Homo sapiens: one gene and its partner. The protein of the gene in region 1 purifies or fractionates together with the protein of each later gene. This does not show direct contact. Each region holds a gene or a part of one and is shown in the gene's direction. Other genes may lie near its edges.

The links.
Region 2: the proteins of KCNG4 (region 1) and CST1 purify together in Homo sapiens (affinity purification with mass spectrometry; 2 studies listed by BioGRID and IntAct, with this or other methods). This does not show direct contact.

The regions. Positions count from the first base shown.
Region 1 is NC_000016.10:84,223,013-84,238,868, reverse strand, and holds part of KCNG4 (voltage-gated potassium channel regulatory subunit KCNG4), read left to right. Parts: intron 1-1,343; 5' UTR 1,344-1,383; coding exon 1,384-2,139; intron 2,140-15,848; coding exon 15,849-15,856. UniProt on the Homo sapiens protein: Regulatory subunit of the voltage-gated potassium (Kv) channel which, when coassembled with KCNB1, modulates the kinetics parameters of the heterotetrameric channel namely the time course of activation, deactivation and inactivation and on the voltage-dependence of activation.
Region 2 is NC_000020.11:23,744,893-23,760,808, reverse strand, and holds CST1 (cystatin-SN precursor), read left to right. Parts: upstream 1-9,873; 5' UTR 9,874-9,942; coding exon 9,943-10,170; intron 10,171-11,679; coding exon 11,680-11,793; intron 11,794-12,909; coding exon 12,910-12,993; 3' UTR 12,994-13,247; downstream 13,248-15,916. UniProt on the Homo sapiens protein: Human saliva appears to contain several cysteine proteinase inhibitors that are immunologically related to cystatin S but that differ in their specificity due to amino acid sequence differences.

The DNA.
Region 1 (15,856 bases):
TGAGATGGAGTCTCGCTCTGTTGTCCAGGCTGGAGTGCAATGGCGCAATCTCGGCTTACTGCAGCCTCCGCCTCCCGGGTTCAAGCGATTCTCCTGCCTCAGCCTCCCGAGTAGCTGGGACTACAGGTACATGCCACCTTGCCTAGCTAATTTTTGTATTTTTAGTAGATACAGGGTTTCATTGGCCAGGCTGGTCTCGAACTCCTGACCTCAGATGATCTGCCTGCCTCTGCCTCGCAAAGTGCTGGGATTACAGGCATGAACCACTGCGGCTGGAGGCCCCTTCATTCTGCACATAAAAGCCTGCGGGCCCAGAGAGGGGGAGTAACTGGCTGGAGGTCACACAGCAAGGATGGCTGAGGCAAGCACGCAACGAACATGGAGGAGTACTGTGATTGCAAGTACGCAATGCTCCTCCGTCCCCTTAGCAAAGGCCTCCCCAAATGGGGAAGCGACCAAGAGGGATTAAGCGAGACTGGTGGAGTTCCTCCTGAGACCTAGATGCTTGGATGCTCGCTAAGCATAGTCACATTCCTGGGCTACTCGAACCTTTAATAACAGACCCTCGCTGAACCTTCCTGATGTCAGGTGCTTGCTAAACAGTAGGCAAGACACGCAAACCTTCCGTGCGTCAGCCTCCTTATCTATAAAGTGGAGCTCTTATGTCTACTTCATGAGGTTGTTGAGGTGAGTTAGGGGAAGCCAGGCATGTCAGAAGCATCTAGAAGTATTATTAATACACACTTTCTTGTATATTACTGCATATAACCCTTGCCATGCCCTACGATGTGGGCACTCAGACTGCCCCAGTCATACAGATAAAGCAAAGGACTCAGAGACACTGAGTAACCCACCTGTGCTGGCAGTCTGTAAGGGATCGGTCCCTGCCAGTGAACCTGAGAGCCTACATTCTTAAGCTCTATTTTTACTACCTGTACCTTGCAAGATTAGTATGAGTCTTGTCATTTGAATGAATGATGCTGAGATCAGAGAGGTTAAGCCACATACCTGAGACCACAGAGCCCAGAAGTGGCACCGCTCCGACTTGTCCAGCTCAGGACTGAATTACTCAAGCCCCCATCCGTGCAACGTCTATTCTGGAGACATCCTTCTGAGATGTCGGTAGAGGTTCCACCAGGGAAGGGTTTTTTTCACTGATGTATCCCAAGCACATAGTAGGTGCTCAATAAATATGTGTTGAACTAAAGGTTAAAAGAACAAGCCATGCAGATGCAGTCACAGGAAAGCACACGTAAGAACATCTGCAGTCGTGACATCCAGGACTCTTTGCCCCAAGACTGATTTCCCTTCCTTTTGCTTGCTCTTTGTCCCTTGGGTGTCAGACTGGTAAACCCAGCGCTTCCTACCTGGTGGTCTTCAGCAATGCCCATGCCTTCCAGAGACGGGGGCCTGCATCCCAGACACCACCACTATGGTTCCCACAGCCCTTGGAGTCAGCTCCTGTCCAGCCCCATGGAGACGCCGTCCATCAAGGGCCTTTACTACCGGAGGGTGCGGAAGGTGGGTGCCCTGGACGCCTCCCCAGTGGACCTGAAGAAGGAGATCCTGATCAACGTGGGGGGCAGGAGGTATCTCCTCCCCTGGAGCACACTGGACCGGTTCCCGCTGAGCCGCCTGAGCAAACTCAGGCTCTGTCGGAGCTACGAGGAGATCGTGCAGCTCTGCGATGATTACGACGAGGACAGCCAGGAGTTCTTCTTCGACAGGAGCCCCAGCGCCTTCGGGGTGATCGTGAGCTTCCTGGCGGCCGGGAAGCTGGTGCTTCTGCAGGAGATGTGCGCGCTGTCCTTCCAGGAGGAGCTGGCCTACTGGGGCATCGAGGAGGCCCACCTGGAGAGGTGCTGCCTGCGGAAGCTGCTGAGGAAGCTGGAGGAGCTGGAGGAGCTGGCCAAGCTGCACAGGGAGGACGTACTGAGGCAGCAGAGGGAGACCCGCCGCCCCGCCTCGCACTCCTCGCGCTGGGGCCTGTGCATGAACCGGCTGCGCGAGATGGTGGAAAACCCGCAGTCCGGGCTGCCCGGGAAGGTCTTCGCTTGCCTCTCCATCCTCTTCGTGGCCACCACAGCCGTCAGCCTGTGTGTCAGCACCATGCCCGACCTCAGGGCAGAGGAGGACCAGGTGAGCGGCCTCTGATGGCATTCACGGCTCCATCCCGCAGGGTGCCTGGGCGGAGATGTCTTTTAGGGGCCCAAGAAAATGTCTTCAGATCTTAAAATAAGAAGAAAAAAATGAATATTATCCAACATGGGTTATATTCATTATTAGGCCATCAGTCATAAAAGATAATTTTCCATCTTTTTTTTTTTTATTGGAGTCCTGCAAAGGCAAAAGTGCCTAAGGCTCACCGTGAAAATCATTACGTGGCCCTCAGCCATGCGTGGACTCAGTGGGCCACACAGACACAGTGTCACCTCTCCCAGCTCTCCCGAGTCTGTGACTACAGGCAAATCACGCCACCTCCTCTCTGAGCCTGTCTCCCACTCCGTGAAATGGGTAACATCACCTCGAAGGTTTACTCACCCAGTGAACTCAACATGTGTTTACTGAACACCACTCTGTGCTAAGCCCTAGAGCAGGTCAAAAACATAAAATCCCTGCCTTCTTGAGCTAACATTCTCCTGGGCATCCCCACTCCATTTTCAGATGAGGAAACTGAGGCATGGGCCATTTATTTTCCTCGGAGCTCCACAGTAAGGATGCCAATGATGCAAAGGTCCCCGGCCTCAGTTTCCCTGCAGTGCTCAGTGTCTGGGCCAGTCTCACTGGATGGGAAACTCACAGATGAGCTGATCTGTAAGTCACTCTGCCCCAGGAGGCCAGAGTAAAAAGTGCTGCTTGCCCACACCTTCGTCCCCTTTGCAGGGAGTTACAGGAGACCCCGAGACACCCTCCCTCCACTCGGGAGCCAGATGGTCTGAGAAGTGAAATAAGAACCTAGCATTTGGTTGAGAGGGTTATTGGAAAGCTTCAAACAGAGAATTAGATTGTTTCCTGATTTAAAAAATCACTCCTCTCCAGCACCGAGCTCCCCCAGGGCTGCCCATCATCTTAATGTTTGGAGCTTGCCTTGTAATCAACAGAGAGAGAAACTAAACACATACGTAAGATGGTGCTTGCTCTATTTGGCTCCTAACAGTTGCCAGCCCACCTAAGTTCTCTTCGCTTAAAGATATGTCCCAGGGCAAGACAACAGGATCAGAGAACTTGCCAGATAGAAAAGACTTAAATGGAGAACCAGCCCATGCCTCACAGACAGTAGGATCCCAGTAAATATGGGTTGAATAAAATGTGTCTTGTCCAACCTACAAAAGTTTGGCCCTAAAAAAACCCACAAAATATTTGGACCTTTAAACAGCTTGTTTTCCCATGGAGAAGATGACAATGCCAATCATAGGCATTTTTTCATTCTACAGCATAAAAACATGAGATTTAAGAGCCTGCTTGTTCACAGAAATATTTATGTGTGGACTCTGCAGTACAAAGATTAAGACAAAACAAGTGACCTCCCTACCCCATTTCTTAAGGGTGCCCTGATCCCAGTTAATAAAGAAAGGCCCCTGGATGCTCACAAGCCTGTTCCTCTTACAGATTTCCAGAGAAGGGAGAAATTGTGTAGGAGCCAGGATTTCGGTTGCGCAGACGGCCAAGATCTTTTCAAAACCTAATGCTTTGAAAATTACGCAGGGTATGAACCCAGGCCTGGCTTAACAGTGACTCAGGAAATCAAATTAGAGGGGAGAGGTGGGCCCGCAGACCTGCGCAGCCAAAGTTTCAGCCGAGGATCAGGCAGCCACGTCTCCTCCTGGGACAAGAGAGATTTATGCCCGGGCCCAGCCACAATATCTTTATGCTTTCTCCTTAGTGAAAGCATCTTTGTGTGTGTGCCCAGAGACAGGCTGAGGTGCTGCCCAGAGAGTGTCTGTGTTTCCGTTTAGATAATAATTCAGAGAGCAGGGAGGCTGAGGACGGGGCAGTCTTTGTTCTCCCAAGACGGTGACCTTACATTTACGTAAAAGGATGATGTCCTCTTCCTGGACACACGTGCTTTGTATTCCTTATTTGCCCTCAGGGAATGTCAATCTGAGAGGGACCAGCTGCTTCTGGGGACAGGCAGTGCCCATTGAGTTTGGGGCCAGTGTCCTGTAAATTGACCCTGATACCATCCACGCTGAAGAATTAATGTCACGATGGGTGGGGGAACAGATCCCAGGGCTATAACCCACAGAACTCTTCCATCAGAAACAGAAACAATGGATGGACATTTGCTGTAAGCAGTTTCTGTTTTTCTACCTTCTCATAGCAACGTCCGTTGGCATAAACCTGATAGTGGGGTAAAAGGTCTGTGCCAGAGATTGCAAATTACAATGGAGGCTGGGTGCAGTGGCTCACGCCTGTAAGCTCAGCACTCTGGGAAGCCGAGGTGGGTGGATCTCCTGAGGTCAGGAGTTTGAGATCAGCCTGGCCAACACGGTAAAACTCCATCTCTACTAAAAAAAAACAAAAAAAAATTAGCCAGGTGTGGTGGCTTGTGCCTGTAATCCCAGCTACTTGGGAGGCTGAGGCAGGAGAATCGCTTGAACCCGGAGGTGGAGGTTGCAGTGAGCCAAGATTGTGCCACTGCACTCCAGCCTGGGCAACAAGAGCAAAACTCCATCTCAAAAAAAATTACAGTGGAGAAGGGAAGAGGCAGTGTAGACAGGAAGGACCAAGCCAGCACCTGAGCTCTTCTAAGGGGCACCGGATTTTAAAGTTCCGGATTTCCCAGGGGGGACTCTTCCCCAAAAGGATGAAAGAACCGATGCCTCCTAAGTGCCGCTCGTGAGGCTGGCATTTCACACCGTGGACTGATTTCATCCCTGTGGCAGCATAGGGAAGTGAATACCACTTCTACCCCCATTTTACAGATGAGGAAACCGAGGCTCAGAGAGGTTTTATCACTTTCTTAAGCTCACAGTAAGGCAGAGCTAAGATTTGAACTCACCTCTGATTGGCTCTAAAATCCGACCCCCTATGACTACACAACACTGATACCATCTTTCTTTCCTTTCCTTTTCTTTTGTTTTCTTTCTTCCTACCCTCGTTTTATTTTTCTTCCCTTCTTTCCTTCTCTTTCTTTCTCTCTCTCTTTCTTTTTTTAAATTTGAGACAGGATCTCACTTTATCACCAAGCTAGTGTGCAGTGGCATGATCTTGGCAGCTCACTACAGCCTGCATCTCCTGGGCTCAAGTGATCCTCCCACCTCAACCCCCCAGGTAGCTGGGACTACAGGTGGGTGTCACCACACCCAGCTAATTTTTTGTATTTTTTGTAAAGACAGGGTTTCCCCATGTTGCCCAGGCTGGTCTCAAACTCCTGAGTTCAAGCGATCTGCCTGCCTTGGCCTCTCAAACTGCCAGGATTACAAGCATGAACCACCGTGCCCAGCCCTAACTTTCAATTCTGGGCCACTTCGCCTCTAGTCTAGAACCTCAGCCTCAGGGCCATTTTGTGCTTCTAAGGCAGCCAGACTTTGTAAAACAGCTCTCAGGCCAGCATGATGGTGCGAAGGCCAGATGTCCTGGGTTTCAATCTTGGCCTCACCCATGACTAACCCAGTGATCTTGGGAAAGTCACTTAACCTCCTTGAGCCTCAGTTTCCTCCTCTATGAAATGGGGGTGCTCTAAGCACTTCCCTCAAGGGGTCATGTGGTGCATAAAGCAGCTGGGACAGGCCGAAACACGGAGGTGCTCAGCGAAAGTCCGTCATACTGATCATCATTCATTCATTCATTCATTCATTCAGTAGTAGTTAACAGGAAACCAAACATTCATCCTTTACCATCCTTCAACAACAGTCATTGACTGCCTACTAAAGTCCATTCTTCTGGGTGCTGGAGAGAAGACAAATTTCTGATTTCCTTGGAGCTTAGATTCTGAGCAGCCCTGCTCTATTTTTTTTTTTTTTTTTTTTGATAGGGTTTCACTCTGTCCCCCAGGCTGGAGTACAGTGGCACAATCTCAGCTCACTGCAGCCTCTGACTCACAGGTTCAAGCAATCCTCCCGCCTCAGCCTCCTGAGCAGCTGGGACCACAGGCAGGCATCATCACGCCTGGCTAATTTTTGTACATTTTGTAGAGATGGGTTTCACCATGTGGGCCAGGCTGGTCTCGAACTCCTGAGCTCAAGTGAGTCTCCCACCTCGGCCTCCCAAAGCGTTGGGATTATAGGCGTGAGTCACTGCACCCCAGCCCCCTGCTTCATTTTTCTGAGTTGACATTTACATAACATGAAATTGAGCAACTTAAAGGGAACAATTTAGTGGCATTTAGTACAATCACAATCTTCTGCAGCCACCATCACCTCTGTCTAGTTCCAAAGCTTTTTCTCAGCATTCCAAAAGAAAACCCTGTCCCAACTAGGCAGTCTCTCCTCCTTCCTCTCCCACCAGCCCCTGGCAATCACCCATCTGCTTTCTATCTCCATGAATTAGCCTATTCTGGACATTTCATAGAAACAGAATCGTGCCAGGTGTGGTCTTCTGTGACTGGCTTCCTGCTCCAGCATCATGTCTTCAAGGTCCATGCACTGTGCCATGCGTCAGACCTTCATTCCTCTTCATGGCCGAATACTATTCCACTGTATGTATATGCCACTATTGGTTTATCCATCTAGCACTGATGGCCTGCTCCATGTTGATAGCTGAAGATAGAAAGACACGTTCCAAAGACCGACCCCCACCTCCAAGGAACAAGATGGATTTGAGACATGAAGCCAAGATTCTGTTCCCATGGCTGCCATACAGACCCCTTTCAATAGGCAGGATTCGAGATCTAGTCCTGACTCTTTTTTTTTTTTTTTTTTTGAGATGGAGTTTTGCTTTTGTTACCCAGGTTGGAGTGCAGTGGTGTGATCTCAGCTCACTGCAACCTCCTCCTCCCGGGTTCAAACAATTCTCCTGCCTCAGCCTCCCACGTAGCTGGGATTATAGGCACCCAACACCATCCCCAGCACATTTTTGTATTTTTAGTAGAGATGAGGTTTCACCATTTTGCCCAGTCTGGTCTCGAACTCCTGACCTCAGGTGATCCGCCCTCCTCTGCCTCCCAAAGTGCTGAGATTACAAGCTTGAGCCACCACGCCCGACCCCGACTCTCACTTGAATGCACTGGGAGATCCAGGGCAGGTCACGTCTACCCCTGGACCTCAACCTTCTGCTGGTAAAATGATGGTCTGGACTTGTCATTTTACAGGCTGACTGGTCCCTAGTGCCCTTCCAGCCCTGGGCACCTGCAGCCTCATGTCCTGGTCTGTTTGCTGCAGTTTCCCAGGTTCTTCCTTTCCCTCTGCCTTCATTGTCCTCCCTGCCATGCATCCCTCGCACCCTCTCCATGTGGCCTCAGCCCTGGCCGGGCAGCTCTGCCTTTCCCTCCCTCCTGGCAGCCTGAACACCACTGGCCACCTGCAGTGGACTGTCTTTCTTCCTCTTTCCTGCTACTAAGACATCCCAACCACTGCAGATAGTATCAGGTCAGGGTAAGGGCCAGCATCTTTAGTTTGCTCGTCCTGGGTTGAGTCCCAGCTCTCCCACTCCCTGGCTCTGCCCTTGGACAAGTCCTTTTCTTTCTCTGTGCCTCTATTTCCTCACCCAGCAAAGAGGACAATCATAACACTATTCAGAGGGCGGTGCTGAGGACTGAACGAGAACCTGTATATCAGGGGCCAGCACAGAGTGGACGCTTGTTGTTCTGCTCCCCCTTGGGGCTGGGCTCACACCCCTGGACCTGCTCTGCTGCTCTGCTCACCAGCCTCCATCCCTGGCTCCCTCCAACCTAATAGCAATGGCCAAGTCAGGGGCCGGTGGCTCAAATGTCCTCTCCATCCCCTTCCAGTGTCTGCCCTCATTCCTCCTCTGCTCCGGCTGTCAGCGCGTCTTTTCTGAGAGCCTGCTCTGGCTGGAGACCCGGTGGGAGAAGCAGGCGAACTCGCCACGCGCAGGACCAGCCCTGCCGGCCTTCCCACTGTTCTCCTCCCATCTTGGGTGCTACGCCTGCCCCACAGCATTGCCTGGGGCTTTCAGGGATATTGTCAGAGGGACATGCACACCCTATGGCAACCAAGTAAGGTGCCCTTGGTGATGTCTCTGCAGAACCATGGTGGGCTTAGGGAGCAGAACTGCACGGGCTCTTTGGTCCTCGCCTTCCCTCTCATCCTGGACTGTAGACATTTCAGTGTCTTACTAAGGTGGAGGGCAGGGGAAGGAAGGCACAGAGAGAGTTTTCTTTGTTTGTTTATTTTGAGACGGAGTCTTGCTCTGTCACCCAGGCTGGAGTGCAGTGGTGCGATCTTGGCTCACTGTAAGCTCTGCCCCCCGGGTTCACGCCATTCTCCTGCCTCAGCCTCCTGAGTAGCTGCGACTACAGGCGCCCACCACCATGCCTGGCTTTTTTTTTTTTTTTTTTTTTTTGAGATGAAGTCTCACTGTCACCCAGGCTGGAGTGCAGTGGCGCGATATCAACTTACTGCAACGTCTGCCTCCTGAGTTCAAGCGATTCTCCTGCCTCAGCCTCCCGAGTAGCTGGAACTACAGGCGCCCACCACCATGCCCAGCTAATTTTTGTATTTTTAGTAGAGACGGGGTTTCGCCATGTTGGCCAGGCTGGTTTCGAACTCCTGACCTCAGGTGATCCACTAGCCTTCGCCTCCCAAAGTGCTGGGATTATAGGCCTGAGCCACTATGCCTGGCCCACAGAGAGAGATTTTTCAAAGACCAGGCGGGACTCTTGGGGCCTCCTCCCCGGGATGCAGCTCACCTTTTGGGGTGCCATTTCCACCTCCCTGCCTCCTCACCCTTTAGTAAGAGGCCCTGTACAAGAGCCAGCTCCTGCCTCCTCATCTGTCCCTTTCTCGGACCATGAATCAGCTTCCTAAAAAACTGGCCTGCTCTCTGGAGCTTCTCTGTGCTTGGTGGCATTTGGTAATTGCTCTAGCGAATGCTTCTTATCCTAGTTTTGTTGCTTTTGTTTTTTTCCTGCAGCTGTGTCTCTCCCTATGTCCCAGCCAAGAAGCAATATTCCCTGTTTCCTGGCCTGGGGCCTCCTTGATGCTCTGCAGGTGACACTGTTTCCTCTGCCTCCTCACAGTCCCCCCACCTCTGCAGGTCCAACTCCAGCCCCCCGCAAATGCCCCATGCAGACGCCACCACCCACACTCATTCATGAGTCGTTCAGGAAGGGCCCCTGCAGGCCGGGCCTGTGCTGGACACTGGGAGAGTCCCTAGGTCTCTCCTTCGGTGACTGCTGACGGGACACCAGCACAGAGGCGATGGGATGGCGGCCCGCCTTCCCCACACGGGGAGAACCGCTGTGAGATTCAGAGTCAGTGGATACTTCTTAGACCCCTGCTGGGCTCCTGGCCCTGTGCTAGTCATTTCCCTGTTTCCTAATTTAATCCTCACCACAATCCCATTCTACAGATCAGAAAACTGGGTCTCAAGAAGTTATGCAACTTGCCTGACAGCAGCTAAGCTAGTAATGCTCCCTCAGTGGCAGCTGCTTTTTTTTTTTCTTTTTTTTTTGAGACAGGGTCTTGCTCTGTTGCCCAGGCTGGAGTGCAATGGTACAATCTCGGCTCTCCTCCAACCTCCTGGGTTCAAGTGATTCTCATGCCTCAGCCTCCCGAGTAACGGATTACAGGTGTGCACCACCACGCCAGGCTAATTTTTGTGTTTTTAGTAGAGACAGGGTTTCCACACACTGGCCAGGCTGGTCTCAAACTCCCTTGCCTCAAGTGATCTGCCCACTTCAGCCTCCCGAAGTGCTGGGATTACAGGCGTGAGCCACCATGCCCAGCCCAGTGGCAGCTGCTTTCTAGTAAGAATTTGCTGGAACCTCTAGAAGAGAAGTCAGCCATCCAACCCGCCCAAGGTGAAGGCCGTGGAGAGCCGGTGATGGATCAGCCACAGGGCATGAACCGGAGGGCAGCAGCGGGAGAGGACTGAGGAGGAAGAGAAGCAGCGTAGATTTGGGAAGCTTCTACACTGCAGCATCCCTCAGCGGGTCTCCCGGGTGCCCACAATCGCCCTGTGGGATGACAGTTACCTTCCCCACTTCACAGAAGGGAAGACGCCTTCAGAGAGATGACTCATCGGCCAGGTCCCATGGTGGGGCTGACCCCGTCCGGTTGGTTCCAGCACTCTCAGAGCCCTTGTGTCCCAGGGTTGGGAAGTGGGGACAGCTGCTAGAAGGAGTGGGCGGGGGGGTGGCGGGGAGACCTGGGGAGGAGGGATTGCGGCTCGGGGTGAGTAGTGCCTGGGGGGAGGCCCATGGGAGCGGAGTAAAGGAGGGGAGGGTAGCGGAGGGCACGGCTGGCCGAGAGAAAAGTGGCTAAAGGAGTGGGCAGAGGAGTGAGTCAGCACATCCAGGCCCCAGGAGAGCCTCAGAGGAAACAGCTCAGGGCCTCGGGCCAGGGCCAAAGGCACAAATGGTGAACTCACAGCAGGAGGGAGGGGAGGGAGGGATGCCGAGCTGCAGAATGGACCAGCCCTGACTAAGGAGCTGCAGAAGTGAGAGGTGGCCACGTTCTGAAGTGGGGCTGGCAGCATTTTGCTGGGAGGGACAGAGGGGGCGAGGAAGTCTCCAAGGTCAAGACTGTGGGCCCTGAGCCCCTCCCAGATGGAGCTTCCAGAACTGGCCTGCATTGCATCTGCAGGGCCCCCAGGGCAGCAGCTTTGCCCTCAGGAAGCCCCGCTCTGCTGCTGCGTGAAACAGGTGAGGGCCAGGCTGTGGGACCCCCACTACTTCCACTTCCTGCCTCCCCCAGGAGTGTTCAGCCAGCTCAGACTCCGACGATAACTCCCATACCACAATATTGGCCCTTTTAAAGTGCACAATTCGGTGGTCTTTAGTATCATCGTGGAGCTGTGCAGCCATCACTGCTACCCTCCTCCTCCATCCAGCCCCGGACACCCACCCCTCTGCTTTCTGTCTCTGTGGATTTGCCTGCTCTGGACATCTCACATAAGTGGAATCATCCAACATGTCGTGTCTGTGTCTGGCTTCTTTTCACTCAGCATCGTGTTTTCAGGGTGCATCCATGTTGTAGCACGATTTAGCCCTTCATTCCTTTTCATGGCTGACTACTATTCCATTGTATGAATAGGCCGCATTTTATGTATTCACTCATCAGTTTATGGATGTTTAAGTTGTCTCTACTTTGGGGCTATTATGAATAATACTACCATGGACTTTTGTGTACAAGTTTTTTTGGGTTTTGTTTTGTTTTGTTTTTTTCTGAGACAGATTCTAGCTCTGTCGCCCAGGCTGCAGTGCAGTGGCACAAGCTTGGCTCCCTGCAACCTCCACCTCCTGAGTTCAAGTGATTCTCCTGCCTCAGCCTCCCGAGTAGCTAGGATCACAGGCACCTGCCACCATGCCTGGCTAATTTTTGTATTTTTAGTAGAGATGGGGTTTTACCATGTTGGCCAGGCTGGTTTTAAACTCCTGACCCCAGGTGATCCACCCGCCTCGGCTTCCCAAAGTGCCAGGATTACAGGCGTGAGCCACCACACCCGGCCTGTGTACAAGTTTTTGTGTGGACATGTGTTTTCATTTGTCTGAGCTATACACCTAGGAGTGGAACAGCTGGGTTGCATGGTAATTCTGTTTAACCTTTTGAGGACCTGCCAAACTGTTTCCACTGCCGCTGCCCCATTTTACATCCCCACCAGTAGTGATGGGTTCCAGTTTCTCCACAATCTCACCGACACTTGGCTATTGTCTGTCTTTATGATTTTAGCCATCCTAGTGGATGTCAATTTGTGTCTTATTGTGCTTTTGATTATCCTTTTTTTTTTTAACTTTTCATCATGGAGAACTTCAGACATTTACAAGGTAAATAGAATAATATAAGGAACTTCTGGGAAACCATGACTCCATGACTTAGCTACACACAATGGTCAATATTCTGCCGCTTTTGTGTATGTTTGTCTTTGAGACGGAGTCTCGCTCTATCGCCCAGGCTGCAGTGCAGTGGTGCAATCTCGGCTCACTGCAACCTCCGCCTACCAGGTCCAAGCCATTCTCCTGCCTCAGCCCGCCAAGTAGCTGGGATTACAGGCATGTGTCACCATGCCTGGCTAATTTTTGTATTTTTAGTAGCGACAAGGTTTCACCATATTGGTCAGGCTGGTCTCGAACTCCTGACCTCAGGTGATCCACCCACCTTGCCCTCCCAAAGTGCTGGGATTACAGGCGTGAGCCATTGTGCCCAGCCAATATTCTGCCATTCTTGTTTCCTCTCTTTCCATCCCCTCTCCACCTCAGATCACTTATAATCATTTGTTACTATTTTTCTTCTACAGTTTTACAGGTGAAATGTACATACACTGAAATGCACAAATCCTAGGTGTAGAATTTAATAAACGGATGCACCCGTGTCAGCCTCTCCCCTGTGAGTATAGAATATTTCTGTGACCCCAGAAAGCTCCCTCGTGGCCCTTCACAGGCCATCCCTACACTACCCAGAGGCAGCCACTGTTCTGATCACTTTGTGCACCCTAGATGAGGCTGCCTGTTCTCGAGCTTCCCACAAGTGGAAACACACACCCGGCTTGCTTTGCTCCACATCATGCCTGTGGGATTCATCGGTGTTGTTTCACCATTCACACCCTGGGCCTTCTCCAGGCTGACGCTTGCTCTTCTTCATTGCAGGAAGGAGCCAGAACACACCTCGCTCTGCCTGTGGCAAGGGCTAGGAATAGGGTGACCAACCATCCCGGTGTGCCCAGGGCCCAGGGGGTTCCTAGGACCCGGAACTTTCTGGGTTTAAGCACAGAACTTCCACAAAGGGAGAAAGGAAAACTTTTTTCTTTCCTTCTTTCCCCTTTTTTTCTTTTCTTCGAATGTTTGCTAAGCTGGGAGTTATTTCCTCTGCCCACACTCCATAAACACCCCCTGCCCCAATGCCAGCATTTCTGAGGAACCAGTGCTGGGAGGCTGGATTTAGGATGCACAGCAGAGCCTGATGCAGGTGCAGTGACGCGGCAGAGCAGAGCCCTTGCTGCAGTCCAGAGAGGTGGCCAGAGGGCCAGGCCGTGGGAGGGCAGGAGCCGGTGTGCATGGCTTGAGTGTCCAAATGCCAGCCCCACAGGCAGGAGGAGGACCTGGCAGCGCCTTCTCGGCCTCTCAGGAGTCACCTTCCTGAGCTATCGGGTCATCAGTATGGAAAAGTTATTCCCAGGCTATAAGTATTTTAAGCCTAGGGAGAAACTCCCAGGATGTCTGCAAAGAGAGAGGCCTTGTAGGCAGAATCTAGCTCAGAGTCTGAAAACCTTCCAGGTGCCTCAGAGTGAATGGGGGGAGTTACCAAAATGTAGATTCCCGGGCCCCACCCTAAGGTTTGGATTTTGTGATGGGGGCCCAAGAATCTGCATTTACAACAAGCACCCTGGGGGCTTCTGGTGCCAGGGTTTCCAAATCAGCTTTCAGAAATACCAATTCTGTTCCAAACTCTGCATTGGAAACTGAAGCACAGAGAGGGCCAGTGGCCGCTGCAAAGTCACACAGCAAGTTTGTAGCAGGGCTGGGGAATCAGAACCCAAAACTTCTGAGCCCTTCAGGATCCTGAAGCAAACCCTGGGCAGTCATGGCAAAGACCTCTCGGTGGGCTGGAGAATCCCCTCATCTTCCTGTAATATCCAGCAACAGGAAGAAGGTATTGCTACCCTTACACTGACCAGGAGACTGTGGTCCATGACCAATGTATAGTTCGGTTAAAATGGCTACAGCGCATCCTGTGCCTGCTAGGTGCACGGTCCTGTTAATGGCTTTATGTGCATAATTTCCATTCATCATGACAGCCCTCCAGAGGTTAGACAACTGAAAGTCCAGAGGAGACAAGTGATTTGCCCAAGTAAGTGGAAGAGATGGGATTTGAAACTGCGCTAGGCTCTGAGAGTATTGTAACTAGACAAGCAGACATGGTTTCTGGGGGGCTTGAAGGCTGGTAGGGCACAGAAAGTTCCTGATTCTCCAATCTTGCTAAAAACTTGCTGTGTGGCTTCGCACTGGCCACTGACCCTCTCTGTGCTTCAGTTTCCAAAGAAGAGGCTGGAACACTCTGGACTCCACCCCTTGGCAGTGCTGCCTCTGACTCCCACCCCTGCAATAGTCCACACAGAAGTCCAGCCAGAAAGGTGCCCTGCCCTGGACAGGCAAATAGAGACTGTCGTGGTTCAGTCTCTTTCTCTTTCTCCAGCAGCCAGGCATAAAGAACATTTCAATTTATGATTTCTGTGGACACTGGAAATAATTTCTTTTTCCATTTCAGAGCATTTTAATCCAGAGAAAACTGTGGTTGTCAACACCTTGCCTTTTACACAGAGAAGTTGCTTTGGCCATTCATCCATTCATCCATCAAATATACATATCTGTGTGTGTGTGTGTGTGTGTGTGTGTGTGTGTGTGTAAATATGTATAGCAAAGTTTTCTACCCTGGCTCCACATTTGAATTATCCATGGGGGTTCTGGAAAATTCTACTGTGCAGCTCAAACCTACATTAATTAAATTAGAATCTTGGGAGGACCCTGCCCAAGCAACAGAATGTTTCAAGGAACCCCCAGGTGATTCCAACATGCAGCCAAGCTTGAGAACCACACACTAGAACAGTGCCTGTCAAACTTCAGTTTGCATGAGTCACCTGGAGACCTTGTTAACTGCAGAATATGATTCCGTGGGATGGGGTGGGGCCTGAGATGCTGTGTTTCTAACAAGCTCCTCGGGGAGGCTGATGCTTTTGGCTCAAGGTCCACACTTTGAGTGGCAGAAGGACTGGTGGAACTACCCTGAACTACTGGGGAGGAAGAACAAAATACAGAACTCAGAACGGCCCCCGCCCAGCTGGAACTGCTGAGCTAGAATCCCGCATGTCGATGGCAGCAATCACACATCCCAAGGGCTGTCTTGGGGATTCAGGAACCCTCTCTGCCCCACCAGCCTTCAAGCCATCAGAAACGATATCTGTTTGTCTAGTCACAGAATGCCCGGGGTTAGAACCATGCCTGGCACAAAGTGGGCCCTCCATACATTTCTGTTAGCTAAATGAATGAGGGGTGGTAAACAACAAAGTTACAAAATAGCCAACAGTATCTAAGAGACCCTGGTACCGCCTCCTATGTATGTGAGCTCAGGCGAGTCACTTCACTGCTGTGACCAACTTCCTGGGCCATCAAATGGGGTCACACTGCCTGCTCATAACATTGCTATGTGGCTTGAGTGACAGCAGGAGAGCAGTGCGTGGTCCCCCAAGGTACTTAACATCATTAAGGTACAGGCTGGCAGCTATAACAAAGAGACCCCAAACTAGAATAGTTTTAAGCCAAATTTTTCTCTTGTGCAATAGTCCCAAGGTGAGGGATGTAGGTGAGTATCGACAACTCTTATTCCAGATTCTCCCGCCTTGATGTTCCCTCCTCCCCTGGGGCGCTGGTCCAGTCCTCTCTTCTTAGCTGGGTTGCAGGCCCATTTGTGCTGTCCCGGCTCACAGGAAGGATGGAAAGAGTGTGCAAGAGTTAGATCCAGAGGTGGTTTGCATCACTTCTGTTTCCAGTCCGGAGGTGAGGACTTAGTCATATTTGGCCACACCTAGCGGCAAGGGAAGCCAGAAAGAACAGTCTCTGACCTAGCCGATCTGCTGTGTACCCAGCCACAACTGGAAAACTGTGTAAAAGGAGGTTCTGGTGGACGACTAAGTTTACAGCACAAAGCTCATGGGCATGAAGTCGTCCCCCGATTTCCAGCACAGTTGCAAGTCCACTCTCTACCCCGCGTTGTTGCCTCTTCTCCCCGCAGGGCGAATG
Region 2 (15,916 bases), on another chromosome or scaffold:
ATAAAAATTCAAAATACAGCAAAGTTCTATGTAAGGATCATCGACATGCACAGCCCTGTGTTGTCAGCTAGTTGGGAAGTCATGGAAACACCTCCTAACTTCTCAGCCTAGCATCAGTGTGTCAGGGGAATGTCCAAGCCATTGCGTGATGAAGCTGCAGGCTGGCTGGTTACTAAGAACACGTTTCACCAGCATCCACACTCTGTACTGTTCCTTAGAGCAGAGACAGAATGTGAGATGGAAGGGACTGGGGCACTGGAGAGGATGCAGGGACAGAGGCTGAGGAGGAAATTCCCTCCAATTTCCCTAGATGTTGCACCTCACAAGAGATGGCCACGTTCCCCACCTCATCCTACCTGCACCTCCCTTTGCAGTGCAGGGGGGTCACTGTTGTTTCCCAGCCCCCTTCTTCTATTTCATCTTGAGTTTTCATCATAAAACCCCATCCTGCACATTGCACACCTTCACAATTATTTGGCTATGATTCTGATACCATGTGAACCACACTGGGTGGGAGTAGAAGTGAATTCTCTATTAGGAAGAACTCAACAATCAATACATAACAAATCATAGGCCAAAAAAGCCTCTACCAGGCCATACCCTTTGACCAGCCTGTTTTTATGGAGAATAAACACGGGCTTTTGGAGAGGAGCTTTCCTCATATGGAGGATCCCATCTAGGGAGCCAGCACTTCCCAGATACCCCAGGTGGAACTCAGGAGACTGAAAAAATCACCCTTGTTAGCAAAAGTTTAGACAGCCATGCCAGCATGAAAGCCACAGGCTTCCTGGAAGTGTGTGCCATGTCATGGCACAGAGAAAAGGGGTTTTCCTAGATTCAAGGGGGTATGCCAGGATTGATGGAGAGCTGTCTCCCTTGCTGGAACAAAACTATACATGCATGCCCCCTCTGCCATGTGGCTAGCAGCAACTCTCTCCAAAAATTGCAGCATAAACCCCCATTGCCTTTGTGCATGGTCATGGGTCTTGCTTGGGCCTTAACAGATGTGACAAGGACAGAAACCTTAACCCTGCAGATGCGAGAGGTGGGTCCTCCTGCTCACCTCCTCACCATCATGAAGAAAACCTGATCCAAGCAGACACTGCCCCTTAGCATGGGCCCCAGGTTGAAGACACAAGGCAAGCCAGACCAGATCTGCTAAGCCCCAGCCCATTTGCAGGCTCCAGAGCGTGACAGGAACAGTTTCTTGCTTTTAGTCCCTAAGATGTTAAGAGTTTTTCCTGTGGAACAGCAACTGACTCACACATGATTTATTCCATTTTCCACTGTACTCCTTCTCCACTCTTTTCCCAAATGAACTCTTTACTGTCCCCTTGACAACCTACCTCCCATAAGTAATTGAGCTGCTGGCTGTAAAGAAACAGAAGCTTTAAAAGTTTCCTTTTGGCAAATCCTAAAAGCAGCCCATATATCAGAGACCCAGGACAGCACTTAACTCTTCCCAGATACAAATAAGCAATCCAGGAGGTCTGTGGGGGCACAGCATGCTGGTCCTCCGCATTGCCCAGGTCCTGGCTCCTGACTGTAAGTCAAGACAGCACCTCAGTGAGAAAAGGGGAGGATCCCGGTTCACCCTGTCAAACGCCACCCTAACCCTAAAGTGGCATGCTAAAGAGAGGCAAAGGAGAATGCAAACCACCACTGAATGGCTGTTCCTTTAGAGAGCAAAACAATAATCACAGAGGCTGGAATCCACTTTTAGCTTTTATAATCTGATGCACATGACAAACAACACAAGTAGAACTGGGGACTCCCAGGTTGGCTACCCTATTTCAGTTTGATTATTTATCAGATATTTAGAACTTTCCCTCTTTTTTAGACTTTAAGTTCTAGGGTACATGTGCACAATGTGCAGGTTTTTTACATATGTTTACATGTGCCATGTTGGTTTGCTGCAGCCATTAACTCATCATTTACATTGGGTATTTCTCCTAATGCTATCCCTCCCCCACACCCCCACCCCATGACAGGCCCCAGTGTGTGATGTTCCCCGCCCTGTGTCCAAGTGTTCTCATTGTTCAATTGGCTCTCTGTTGGTCTGTTATCGGTGTATAGGAATTCTTGTGATTTTTTCACGTGGATTTTGTATCCTGAGGCTTTGCTGAACTTGCTTATCACCTTAAGGAGATTTTTGGCTGAGACGATGGGGTTTTCTAAATATACAATCATGCCATCTGCAAACAGGGACAATTTGACTTCCTCTTTTCCTAATTGAATACCCTTTATTTCCTTCTCCTGCCTGATTGCCCTGGCCAGAACTTCCAACACTGTGTTGAATAGGAGTGGTGAGAGAGGGCATCCCTGTCTTGCACCAGTTTTCAAAGGGAATGCTTCCAGTTTTTGCCCATTCAGTATGATATTGGCTGTGGGTTTGTCATAAATAGCTCTTATTATTTTGAGATATATTCCATCAATACCTAGTTTATTGAGACTTTTTAGCATGAAGCACTGTTGAATTTTGTCAAAGGCCTTTTCTGCATCTATTGAGATAATCATGTGGTTTTTGTCTTTGGTTCTGTTTATATGCTGGATTACATTTATTGATTTGCATATATTGAACCAGCCTTGCATCCCAGGGATCAAGCCCACTTGATCTTGTTGGATAAGCTTTTTGATGTGCTGCTGGATTCGGTTTGCCAGTATTTTATTGAGGATTTTCACATCGATGTTCATCAAGGATATTGGTCTAAAATTCTCCTTTTTTTGTTGTGTCTCTGCCAGGCTTTGGTATCAGGATGATGCTGGCCTCATAAAGTGAGTTAGGCAGGATTCCCTCTTTTTCTATTGATTGGAATAGTTTCAAAAGGAATGGTACCAGCTCCTCTTTGTGCCACTGGTAGAATTCAACTGTGAATCTGTCTGGTCCTGGACTTTTTTGGTTAGTAGGCTATTAATTATTGCCTCAATTTCAGAGCCTGTTATTGGTCTATTCAGCAATTCAGCTTCTTCCTGGTTTAGTCTTGGGAGGGTGTATGCGTCCAGGAATGTATCTATTTCTTCTAGATTTTCTAATTTATTTGCATAGAGCTGTTTATAGTATTCTCTGATGGTAGTTTGTATTTCTGTGGGATTGGTGGTGATATTCCCTTTATCATTTTTTATTGGGTCTATTGATTCTTCTCTCTTTTCTTCTTTATTAGTCTACTAGTGGTCTATCAATTTTGTTGATCTTTTCAGAAAAAACAGCTCCTGGATTCATTGATTTTTTAAAGGGTTTTTTGCGTCTCTGTCTCCTTCAGTTCTGCTCTGATCTTAGTTACTTCTTGTCTTCTGCTGGCTTTTGAACTTGTTTGCTCTTGCTTCTCTAGTTCTTTTAATTGTGATGTTAGGGTGTCGATTTTAGATCTTTCCTGCTTTCTCTTGTGAGCATTCGGTGCTATAAATTTCTCTCTACACACTGCTTTAAATGTGTCCCAGAGATTCTGGTACGTTGTGTCTTTGTTCTCATTGGCTTAAAAGAACATCTTCATTTTTTACTTCATTTTATTATTTACCCAGTAGTCATTTAGGAGCAGGTTGTTCAGTTTCCATGTAGATGTGTGTAGGGAAAAGAAAGAGAGATCAGACTGTTACTGTGTCTATGTAGAAAGAAGTAGACATAAGAGACTCCATTTTGTTCTGTAATAAGAAAAATTCTTCTACCTTGAGATGCTGTTAATCTGTAACCCTACCCCCAACCCTGTGCTGGCAGAAACAAGTGCTGTGTTGATTCAAGGTTTAACGGATTTAGGGCTAGGTAGGACGTGCTTTGTTAAACAAATGCTTGAAGGCAGCATGCTTGTTAAAAGTCATCACCACTCCCTAATCTCAAGTACACAGGGACACAAATCACTGCAGGAGGCCACAGGAACCTCTTCCTAGGAAAGCCAGGTATTGTCCAAGGTTTCTCCCCATATGAAAGTCTGAAATATGGCCTCGTGGGAAGGGAAAGACCTGACCATCCCCCAACCCCACACCTGTAAAGGGTCTGTGCTGAGGAGGATTAGTAAAAGAGGAAGGCCTCTTTGCAGTTGAGATAAGAGGAAGGCATCTGTCTCCTGCTACTCCCTAGGCAATGGAATATCTGCTTGTAAAACCCAATTGAATGTTCCATCTACTGAGATAGGAGAAAACCACCTTCAGGCTGGAGGTGAGATATGTTGCTGGCAATACTGCTCTTTAATGCACCAGATATGTTTATGTATGTGCACATCAAAGCACAGCACATTTTCTAACCTTGTTTATGACACAGAGACATTTGTTCACATGTTTTCCTGCTGACCATCTCCCCACTATTACACTATTGTCCTGCCACAACCCCCTCTCTGAGATGGTAGAGATAATGATCAATAAATACTGAGGGAACGGAGAGACCTGTGCCAGCGTGGGTCCTCCCTATGCTGAGCACTTGTCCCCTGGGCCCACTTTTCTTTCTCTATACTTTGTCTCTGTGTCTCTTTCTTTTCTCAGTCTCTCATCCCACCCAATGAGAAATGCCCACAGGTGTGGAGCAGCTGGCCACCCTTTCATCTGGTGCCCAACGTGGGTGCTTTCCTCTAGGGTGAAGGTACGCTCAAGCGTGGTCACTGAGGACAAGTTGATGAGAGATTCCCGAGTACGTCTACAGTCAGCCTTGTGGTAAGCTCGAAAGAAGCCAGGGTAACAATGGGGCAAACTAAAGTAAATATGCCTCTTATCTCAGCTCTATTAAAATTTTTGTAAAAAGTGGGGGAGTTAGTGTTTCTACAAAAAATCAAATCACGCTATTTCAAACAATAGAACGATTCTGCCCATGGTTTCTAGAACAGGGAACTTTAGATCTAAAAGATTGGAGAAAAATTGGAAAACAATTAAAACAAGCAAGTAGGGAGGGTAAAATCATCTCACTTACAGTATGGAATGATTGGGTCATTATTAAAGTAGCTTTGGAACGGTTTCAAACAGAATTACTAAGCAGAGACATCAAAGGTAGGAGGTTCTAGATAAACTGACCTAACAATATTGTTGCTAAAGCCAGGACAAAGCCTTAGACATCAAAGGAAAGAAGAACTTGGTCAGATGTTGAGGGTGATCAGATACCAAGGGTGGGGGGGAGCCTTTCTAAACTGACTTAGCAGGATTCTTTCCTAAAACTGGGCCATGAAGCCCTCGCAAGAACAGGAGGTCCAGGGCTGGGGACTAGGGTTGAGGACCAGGGCAGAGGAAGGCTCAGAGGAGCCTAACAAGGGTTTGGTCAAGGTGAGTCTTGTCACTGGATCCAGCTCTTCTGTGACAGGAGGAAAGGGCAGGCAGGGCCACAGGAGGGAGCAGGGCTGTCCTGATGGCCTCTGGCTCCAGCTCCAACACTCAGTGATTGAGTTGAACAGGATTCCAAGCAGGAAGAGGAACCAATCTCCACAGTCACTGCATTTTGCTAAAGGAATTGATATTTAAGGTTACACAAACAGTGACAGGGAAGTCCCAGCAGTGACCCAAACAGGATAAGAAAGTCTGACCACCCAGAGATGTCAAGGAGATGACTCACCTCCTCAGAGTCATCTGTTTTCCTCATGGCCAGGCCTCTGCAGGCTGTAGCCCAGGGAGTCAGATGGATCCCTGGCTGCAGCAGCCAGCAGCCCGAGTTCCGGAGGCCGCCCCTACTCCCCTCCATTCATATGTGGTTCTTCAGTCAGTGAATCTGCACTGACAAATGCTCTTTTTGATTTTTGAAAAATAAATGTTAACTTGTACTCCAGAGCCAGGAATACCATTCATGTGCTGGTCCCTGAGAGAAAGGATTCTCTTTCTCCCCACGGAGTGCAAAACAATCAGACCTGACACTGGGCTCTGCCCTCTCTTGCCTTTCCCAGCCGGGGCTGCCAGCAGGCTTCCCCATGAGTATCAGTTTCCTAATGATGTGGAAAAGCCAAATGTGGTACCAACATGGGCCCATAGTTTAGAAGCATCCACATGTCCTAACAGAGCCAAATGTGTTACCAACATGGGCCCATAATTTAGAAGCATCCACGTGTCCACGATGTGTGAGGAGAGGGAGAAAAGAAGGAAGGATGGAGTGTGAAAGAGATGAGCTTGACCCCAGAGAATTCCAGGCACTCCATAAAGGAGGCTCCTGGGCTTCCCATTTGAGAAGCCACCAAATCCTGTGGCTGTTCAGTCCCAGCTCCTACCATAGACCAAACTGTTAGTTGCTCAAAACCCAGTTGTGCAGAATCTCAACTCTTGGCCAGCTTGTCCTCACCACTTGCACTTTTACATGATGCTTTCTGCGCTTGGTCATTTATTATGGTATTGTTTAGTGTTCACTTATTATTGGTCATTTATTGCAGAGAACTTCTGCCACTCACCTAATTTCTCATCCTACTAATTCAGATAATCAGATCAGTTCACCTGTGCAGCCTAGGGGAACACAGCTTTCTCTTTTGTCACCTAGCAGAAGGAAAACATGCCCCCTCCTGGGCAGCTGGACTCCTCTAGGTTACATGGGTGCTGGAGGCCCCAAGCTTGTTCCTCAGTCCATGGTTGCTATCTGGCCCTCTTCTAGTGTGTCCTTAAAACTGTGGACTATAGAAATCAGGGAACAAAGTGTTCTGCCATTTTTTTTAGATGGGTGTTTCACTGTGTTGCACAGGCTGAAACTGAACTTCTAGACTCAAGGAATCTTCCTGACTCACTCTCCTAATAAGCTAGGATTACAGGTGCAGTACCACACCTGGCTACTCCATCATTTTTAACCATGTTGATACATCACTGCTGAAGTCTGCTCATCTCTGCTGGTCTTAACTCCCAGATACTATGCTTTAGAAAGTAGCCTCTTTCTCCAGATGCATGACAGACACACCATTTGCCTAAGGTCATCAAACATCTGGAGCAGCTGGCCAGCTACCTCAACCTGCTACTTCCTATCACTCCATACTGGACATCGCACTTGTACCTCCTCCTAAGAGCAATGTACACTGGTATTTTTCCTACTGGGATTAGAGAGCTTGCTGCATCAGAACAGCTGACCCTCCCTGCAGTGCATGCCAGTGCCCAGACAGAAGATGACCACTGGTGGTGTCATCACATACAGGGCACAGGTCAGCACTCTGGCCTCCCTCCCTCATACTCCACCCACCAGCACATTCTCGCTATTTGGGTTACCTGCATCTCCTTTCCAATGATTAAAACAAAACAAAACAAACAAACAAAAACAAACAAAAAAACAAGAGGATTGCTTGACCTTCAGTTTACCCTCTGCACAGCATGTCTTCCTGAGCCTGGACTCCCAGCTGTCCCAGGAAGGTGGGAGCCACAGAGGAGAACTAACTCCTACCCTTTGGAGATGACCATTCTGCTCCCAAACACCTGGTAAGGGACTTCCTTCTCTTTCCCTTCTTTGGAAATCTCTCCCCATTTCCTGTCTAACTAGGAGGCATATGTGCAGCTTTGTTTGAAGACCTTCCCTCCTTCACCCAGCAGTAAACACCTTCGGTACACCTGCTGTATCTGCCGGGCTGCACGGCTATTCTAGGGGTGCTGGATTCACAGTGGGGTGAGATGGTCACCAGGCCTCAGGTAACAAGGTTCCCTGTACTAATACTGAACATGAGCACCCATGAGTAATATGGTTCCCAATGCCGGGTTCCTGCTGATCCAGCCCCAGCCATGTCCCAGCCCAGGATGACTCTTGGCCAGCTTGTCCTCATCACTTGCACCTTTATGTGATGGTTTCTGCACTTGGTCATTTGTTTATTATAGTATTGTTTAGTGTTCTAAACAGGTCTGGGCTGACACTGGCCAACGCTCACCTCCACCACTCCTGGGAGAGTCCTCTGGGTGTCCTGCTAAGGTCCAGGGTTTCCTGTAGCTTCTGGCCAAGCCTGCCACCTCCCCATAAGGGCATTTGCCACAGGGTCACCTTCAGGCATGGAGGGTGGGGTTGAGAGAACAAAGGGAGCAGCTGTCTGTTCAGAGCCTCCTTCCACCCTCTCCTCTCCTGGAGTCACATTCCAGCCCAGGCCCACAGCATCCCGAGCTGGGGGCTTTGTCAGCCCATAGGACACCCAACTGACCAAATCCTCTCAGTCTGCGGAGAAGGAGAACTCACAATCCTGGCAATGAAGCAACTCGGGGGCCGCCGGAAAGCCACACTGGGCAAAGGACAAAGACACACATGGGCTCGCTCTGCAGGACTCCATTCCTGGGAAGCTCAAGGACAGGCGACCAAGGAGTCTATGGGGCCGGATGGGGACTGCCAAGGTGGGGTGGGCACGAGGGTGGCTGGAAAGGCAGGAAGATACTGTCTGGGGCAAGGCAGATGTCACAGGTCTGGATAAAGTGGTAACACAAGTGTATGCATTTATGAAACACCCCAGATTGAGCACATACTATTAGGCATTTTATTGTATGCAAATTCTACCTCATTTAAGGCAATTTTTAAAATATCAGGTGAGTCTTCCAAGCAGTGAACAGAGGAAAGGAGCCTGAAGCATGGCTGCCTAGGACAGAAGCAAGAGAGACCTGTGGGTTCCCACATTCATCCCGTGGCTGCTGCTCCCTTTCCTGACACCCCCACTGCCTCACAGGGGTCTCCGTGCACCTTCCACCGGGCCCCACCCACATTTACTGTGAGACTCCAGGTCGTTCCCTTCCCTCCTCATACCCCCTCCAGGAGCTTCCACTTTCTGGAGCAGGCATGTCCCAACCCCACCTCAGGGCCTTTGCACTGGCTGTTCCCCACTGCCTGGGGCTTCTCAACCTCTCCAGTCTCATAGAGACCACCCTGACCAGGGTCCAGTGGTCTCTCTCTAGCCCCTGTTCTATTTCACTTCCAAAAGAGTGAGCATAACTCCCTGACCCTAATTTTTGATCGTAACCTACCATCCCCTACACACATTGTGTAGGAATGGACTATGGAGTTCCATAGAACCAGCCACATGTGCCACAGGATACTTGAAATGGGGCCAGTCCAAAATTACTTCTGGTCTAAGTGTTAAAAATACACAGGGAATTTCAAAGATTTACAAAACCAAAAAAAAAAAAAACAAAAAAAAAAAAAACATAAACGATCTCATTAATAATTGTTCCCATTAGCTGAAATCACATTGTGGCTATATAAGGTTAAATAAATATTTTAAACATTACTTTCACCCATTTATTCTCATCTTTTAAAATGCATCTACTAGAAATTTTCAATTGCTCGTGAGTTCGTGTCACATGTCTGTTGGGCAGCAGCTCTGCAATGTCACCTCTATGGCTCATCATCCAGGTTCCGTCTTCAAGCCCTAGACCTCCTGGCACGGGGAGTAGCTGGTGATAGGTTTGCTTATTGAATAATGAATTATGAAAAGAGAATCCAGTGACCTTTTCCAAAAAGGTTAATTCCCTTAAATTTGGCAAAGAAATTCTCCACATTAGGGTATGGACAGGGTCTTCTGGAACTTTCTGAAATAATCTCCCTGTTCCAGAGATTCAGAGACTGTGACCAAGTGCTCCTGGATGCCCCTGATATCTGAAGACCCTGGGAGGCCAAGCCCTGTATTTTTCCCCTTTCTGAGCAAACAGGAAGTCACATAGCTTTCACAGTCAAAGGACCAGTGTCACCTCTGTGGAGACCTGGGTGACTCAAGCTTGGGAGCACTGGGGAAGAGAGGCATGGCTCGGGGAGGCTGCAGTGAGGACTGGAGTGGGGAGGAGGGGGAGATGGAGGAGGAGGCCTGGGAGGGGCAGGGGGAACTTAGGCAGGGAGGGAGCTTGTAGTAGCGGGGGAGTGAAAAGAGAGATGGAGAAAGAGGGGATGGGAAGAAAGAGGAGGAGGAGTCAGGGGTGGGGCATGGAGGTGGGTGGGGCTGGGCTGCCAAAGCAGGATAAATGCACACCTGCCTGCTGGTCTGGGCTCCCTGCCTCGGGCTCTCACCCTCCTCTCCTGCAGCTCCAGCTTTGTGCTCTGCCTCTGAGGAGACCATGGCCCAGTATCTGAGTACCCTGCTGCTCCTGCTGGCCACCCTAGCTGTGGCCCTGGCCTGGAGCCCCAAGGAGGAGGATAGGATAATCCCGGGTGGCATCTATAACGCAGACCTCAATGATGAGTGGGTACAGCGTGCCCTTCACTTCGCCATCAGCGAGTATAACAAGGCCACCAAAGATGACTACTACAGACGTCCGCTGCGGGTACTAAGAGCCAGGCAACAGGTAGGTGCTCCCTCCACCCCAGGGGTCCTGGGTCCCAGCCTGGTTTGTTCCCCAACCCCCAAGAGCATTCCCAGCAAATCAACACTGATACATTCATGATCTAATGCTCAGATTCATTCAGCTTTCCCTGGCTCTCCGCTGATGCCCTTCATGCCTAAGCACGCTCCCCGGCCGTGCACAAACTCAGCTTCCTTTAACCTGCAGCAGCCACTGTGTCTGTACCATGACTGTGGCATTTCCCAGGGTCCAGCAGGTGTGGATGGAGACTGTGCTTACTCTGGGTGGGCTTGATGCTGCTCAGGATGAGATCCAGGCCATGAGGTTCATACTCCTCCCTGAGTCCTCTCTGCAGGGGCCACACAGGAACCTGGCTCACTGTTCTGCAGAGCCCTGCTTCCCCAAGTCACGCCCCTGGGCACAGCCCCTTATGGCTAGCGGCCTTCACCCTCAGGCCGGCTGACAAACCCCTACAGCCCAGGGCGCTGAGTCCCTGCTGGGGTGGAGCATGCCTGACCCTGCCTCTACCAGCTGATGCAGTTAGACCTCAGCCAGATGAGGACAGTGGTCACCCAGCAGAGCAGAGGAGGGGTCAGGTCGGGAGGGAGCTTCAGCAGGGCAACTGGGCCCAGCTTGACCTGCATCCCATGGCACAGCAGCAAATAGTGACACAGTCTTTAGAGCTCCTCCACCTTCTCCTGGAAATTCAAAGGAATCCCCACCAGCCCCGTTTCTCCTCTTGCAGCTGTCAGCTGGGGCTCTCTCCCTGCATACGAGATACACTCCCTGGTGCCGTGGTCCCCGCTGGCCTGCATCTCCCTTTCAAGCATGACAGTAACTTGGAGTGAAGCACAGGGCATTGCAGACCATCAGGCCCAGAAGCCTATTTTAGACATGGGTAAACTGACACTCGAGGGATCTCAGCAGTTCCTCCTGGTTCCAGAGAGTCCCTCATCCCAGGTTTCTCCACAGCTCTGCCACATTGTGTCTGGGAAAGGCCCTATGCAGGGAAAGGGTTCAATTCTAATCTGCAACTGTAAGACACGCAGGTGTGCTGCTGACTTGAGAAATGTATCTTGAATCTCACACTTGAAATGGTGGCATCCGGGCGGCCCCATTGATCCAAAATATCTGTGTGTGTGAAGCATCTCATTTCCTACTCTGAGTGAAGTAATAAATCTATGTTAAATGGAGGGAATAAGATTTTCAGAAGTTAGGTGAAATTTTGTCATCAGACAGACTTCCTAGAAAAGAGTCAGTGTTCCCTCGCCCCTGAGCCACAGACAGCAGAATTCAATGAATCCTTTTACCCAGCACAGAGAAAGCAATGTTTAAGAGCGGGTATGAGGCTCAGCACCCTGCCAGTTGACAGGAAGAGGGGGCTTGTGTGCCTTGTGTTGACATGTGGGCAGCTCACGAAGCCCCCAAGCAAGTCCAGTGACTCAGCCACAGTGAAGTGCCTGTGAGTGCATGAACTGATGGGGGCGCTGTCCTGTTTTCTCCTGTGTGCAGACCGTTGGGGGGGTGAATTACTTCTTCGACGTAGAGGTGGGCCGCACCATATGTACCAAGTCCCAGCCCAACTTGGACACCTGTGCCTTCCATGAACAGCCAGAACTGCAGAAGGTACGTTCCTGATGCAGGTCCCGGGCCAGTCATGCACTGCAGAGGGGTGCGTATGTGTCAGCCTCTGCCCTACACATGTTTGGAGGGTGTGTGTGTGCAGGTGGGTATGTGGGGAGCCGTGTATGCATGGATGTGTACGTGTTCATGTACTTATGGGGGGGTGTGCATGTAGGTGTGCATGTGGAAAGGTGCACGTGTGTACACACCTGTGCCAGTGTGTGCAGGGAGGTGGATGGGAGCATGTGTGCCTGTGCATGGATGTGTGGGGGGTGTATGGGGCTTTGTACATAGATCCATGGGGATGAGGGGTCCAAGTGAGTTTACGTAGTTGTCCATGTATGTGCAGATGGGGTGGTGAGGGAGGAGGGTGATGTGTTTGATTTGCTAGGAAGGCTTTAGGTTGGGAATGGTTACTATAAGGTCAATTCTGCCTGCTTTGGAGTGTTGCCTGTTGGACAGGAAGAAGCAGCTGTGCGGCTGTGTGCTGGGCAGGGAGAAGGGGCTCTGTCTAATCCCAGCCTCAGGCACCTGCATGCAGCCACAGCCACAGTGATCAGATTAGTGGGACCTAGAGGCCTGTTAGCTGGGAAGCCCTGGACCTGCCCGGCTCACCCAACACCAGCCTCTCCAAGGACCTGCTGGTTCTTGTGAGGTCTCCACTCAGGGGAGAGCCACACTCCCCTTGTTGCCCTTGCCCCATGCCCCAGCTCTTTGAGGGGGAGTTGCCCTGCCCTGGGTTCTTCCCTCTGGCCCCTCTTAGTGCTGGCCTGGGTGCTGGAGGTGGAAGGAGCTGGGGGAACTGAGCTGCCTCCCCATGCCCTGCACCCTTGGGGCTCCCGAGGCCTTGCCCAGGCTACTCCTCACAGGGCTGTGCTGGGACAGGACACTGCAGGCTGGGGTGGGGTCCCAATGCCACCTGGTGACTTGGAGCCTTGGGAGGGGCAATGGAACAGTCACTATTCATTCTAGTTCAGCACTCTGGGACTCAGTAGGGGTGGGTGAGGGCCCAGTGTCTCACCTCCATCCTCCTCACCCAGGCTCTGACATCTCATGCCTGGGCATCTTCCCCTTTAACTGTAACCCACACTGATTGGCCCTCTCTCTTCCCTTTCACAGAAACAGTTGTGCTCTTTCGAGATCTACGAAGTTCCCTGGGAGAACAGAAGGTCCCTGGTGAAATCCAGGTGTCAAGAATCCTAGGGATCTGTGCCAGGCCATTCGCACCAGCCACCACCCACTCCCACCCCCTGTAGTGCTCCCACCCCTGGACTGGTGGCCCCCACCCTGCGGGAGGCCTCCCCATGTGCCTGCGCCAAGAGACAGACAGAGAAGGCTGCAGGAGTCCTTTGTTGCTCAGCAGGGCGCTCTGCCCTCCCTCCTTCCTTCTTGCTTCTAATAGCCCTGGTACATGGTACACACCCCCCCACCTCCTGCAATTAAACAGTAGCATCGCCTCCCTCTGAGTTCTTGGCTGTCTGGGGATGTGCACGCAGGCGGGGTTTCTGCAGTTCCTTTATGAAGCCTCCTTGTCCTGCTGGTGTGGAGATCACAGGAGTACCTGGGAGCTGACGCAGCCACAGCAAGGCCATCAGGGGAGCTGCTGCCACTTTCAGAGACCTGAGCTTCAGAACAGGGAGAGAGCAGCCAGGGACTGGGAACCCAGGCCTTCAGCTGCAGCAGCCCCTGGTGAGGGGGTCAGGGAGAGGAGGGGGCCCAGGCAGCTGCCCCAGAAGCTAGGCTGCTGTTTTGGTCTGAGCTGCTGGTCAGACCACGAGGAGGGGGCTGGCTGTGTCCACAGGCAGGGGCCAGGCCTCAGTGGAGCTCGCCAGGCCATAGAGTCCATCTGTGCTTGCAGAGTGGAGCAGACTCCAGGGACTGAGCTGCTCTCATCAAATCCCCTAGACACTAAATAGACAGCGATCAACGTGTAGTTCTTTCCACAGGAGACTTTAGGCACCTACATGGAAACAAAGTCCAAAAGTGTGTGTGTGTGTGTGTGTGTGTGTGTGTGTGTATAACTTATTGGGAAAAATGCCACCCAGACCAAAGACAGGCAAGATCACCCAGAGAAAGCAACGCCTGCTCTCATCCATCCTGGGAGGGTGTGCCCCAGGCTGGGAGGTTGTCTCCTATGCTAGGAAGCTGTGCCCTAGAAAAGTTTTACACGTTCACACCCAGCCGCCCTTTCTCTGGACTTGAATTTAAAATGAGCACTCAGGTCAGCCTTCTTGGCAGGGATGGAGAAGCTAAAACACAAATGAAAGTGACATGCAGTGGACACTCGATTTTTTCACAAAGGATGTTTTAATTAATAAATAACATCACCTAAGTGTCAAAACCATTCTGTAGAATAGTGGGTAGTTGCGCTCTAAAGAAGAGGCTACAGTCCTAAGACAACGCCCACCCTGCACGGCCCTTCCCTTTGCCATTTCAGGGCAGGGGGTGCAGCCCTCAGGGCAGGTGCCTCTGGGGAAGGGCTCTCAACTATCTTCCATGCCTAGATCTGCGTTGACCAAGAGTGGCTGCCATGAACACCGAGGGGAAAATGACAAAGGGGAAACTGTTGAAACAGCCCTGAGGCCAGCACCCCATGTGCCGCACATAGAAAGCCAGGAGGAGTATGGTCTGGCAGGGAGAGTGGGGAGCACCTGTTTCATTTCCTCTCCACCCCTATGGGATGTAACCAAGGTTTTACGTTGAAGAAAGTGAAGCAGCACCCAGGAGGCCATGAACTGGGGAGATTTGAGTCTGGGCCTCACCCGGTGTCAGGGGGTGGGGGCTGCACACACTGATTCAGGCTTCTGTTGGAAGACAGGGGCTGAGAGCAGAGGAGCATGTGCCCAGGAATCATGGTTAGGGGCAGAGTCTTCCCTGCATGGAGATCCTCATGGTTCTCTACCTGGGGAAAGTCTGTCTTGACATAAGCAACCACCATCCAAGGACACAAGGAACAGACAATTTTGTGTAAACCAGTAACTTTTCTGACATCTCTCTTCCTGGGGAAGTGGAGGGGGACGTCTGGCTCTGTAGAGGGCTCCCTCAACCATCTCCTTGTGTGTCTGTTCCCTAGGAGGGGAGCAGGGGGCAGGGAGGCTTTAAGGTGAGCATGTGGACCTTCATCTTCTGGACCAAGCTGAGGGTCTGGGCCCTGTCCGGAAGCCACCCGGTTTTTGGGAGTAAAGGAGGATACTGAGGGTCATGTTTTGGAAATATTGCACCCCTTCTAAGAGTTCCTTTAGCAAAAATAATGTCACACATTCTTACTAAAAGCCTAAAACCGCTGAGGTTAGAAACTCCACCTTCAGCATAGACAAATCACTCTGAAAGGAGGGATAAGTCCATTGGAGGCCTGGGAAGCGGGAACCAGAGCGGTCATTCCTTGGGCAGGTGGATTCTCAGCACTATGACCACTGGCAATCCAGGTTCCGTGAGGTCTGAGGCTTACATAATTCAGAGGGTTATCTACATGAAAAATAGCATAATATAAACTATTTGAAACTAAACACAGAAGTTAGTGTTTATTTAAGAAAAGGAAATAAGTCACAACAAATTACTCACTTTAAAATGCTGAAAAATGCTACAGTCATCCCAAATTCCAGAAACTAATATACATCCTAGTGCATTCAGTCACCAAAACTGATTTTGCAGTTAACAGACTCAGGATTATTGGCTTGTAGCAAAAAGGGAATAAATTCACATTAAGAAACCTGGGATGACTAAAAAAACAAAGCAAAGAGGTTATTATAAGACTGTGGGGAGGGATTCTTGAGGCTGTAGTGATGGACTCACAACGTAGCAGTCCTAAGTGTAAAGCAGCCAGTGTCAAGTCTGGTCTGCAAAGTGGACCCAGGTCCTCTGTCCTTAGAACCCATGAAGTCCAGCCAGATGTGAATGTTCCATCCAGAAACCCCTTCTCTGTAGCTCTGTGCTTCTGTGTAAAGGTGGACCTAGATCCTCCAGGCAGTGTGATGTTGTACTTACTCAAAAGCAAAGTTTCTGACAGCCCCTGATGCTGGAGAGCAAGGTCTTCCTTTGAGTCAGAAAGCAGTTGTCACCCAAGGAAGAGGCTGTTTGACATTTCGAAGCTGCAGCTTGAGAGAAGCATTGTTTCCTGCTCATGATG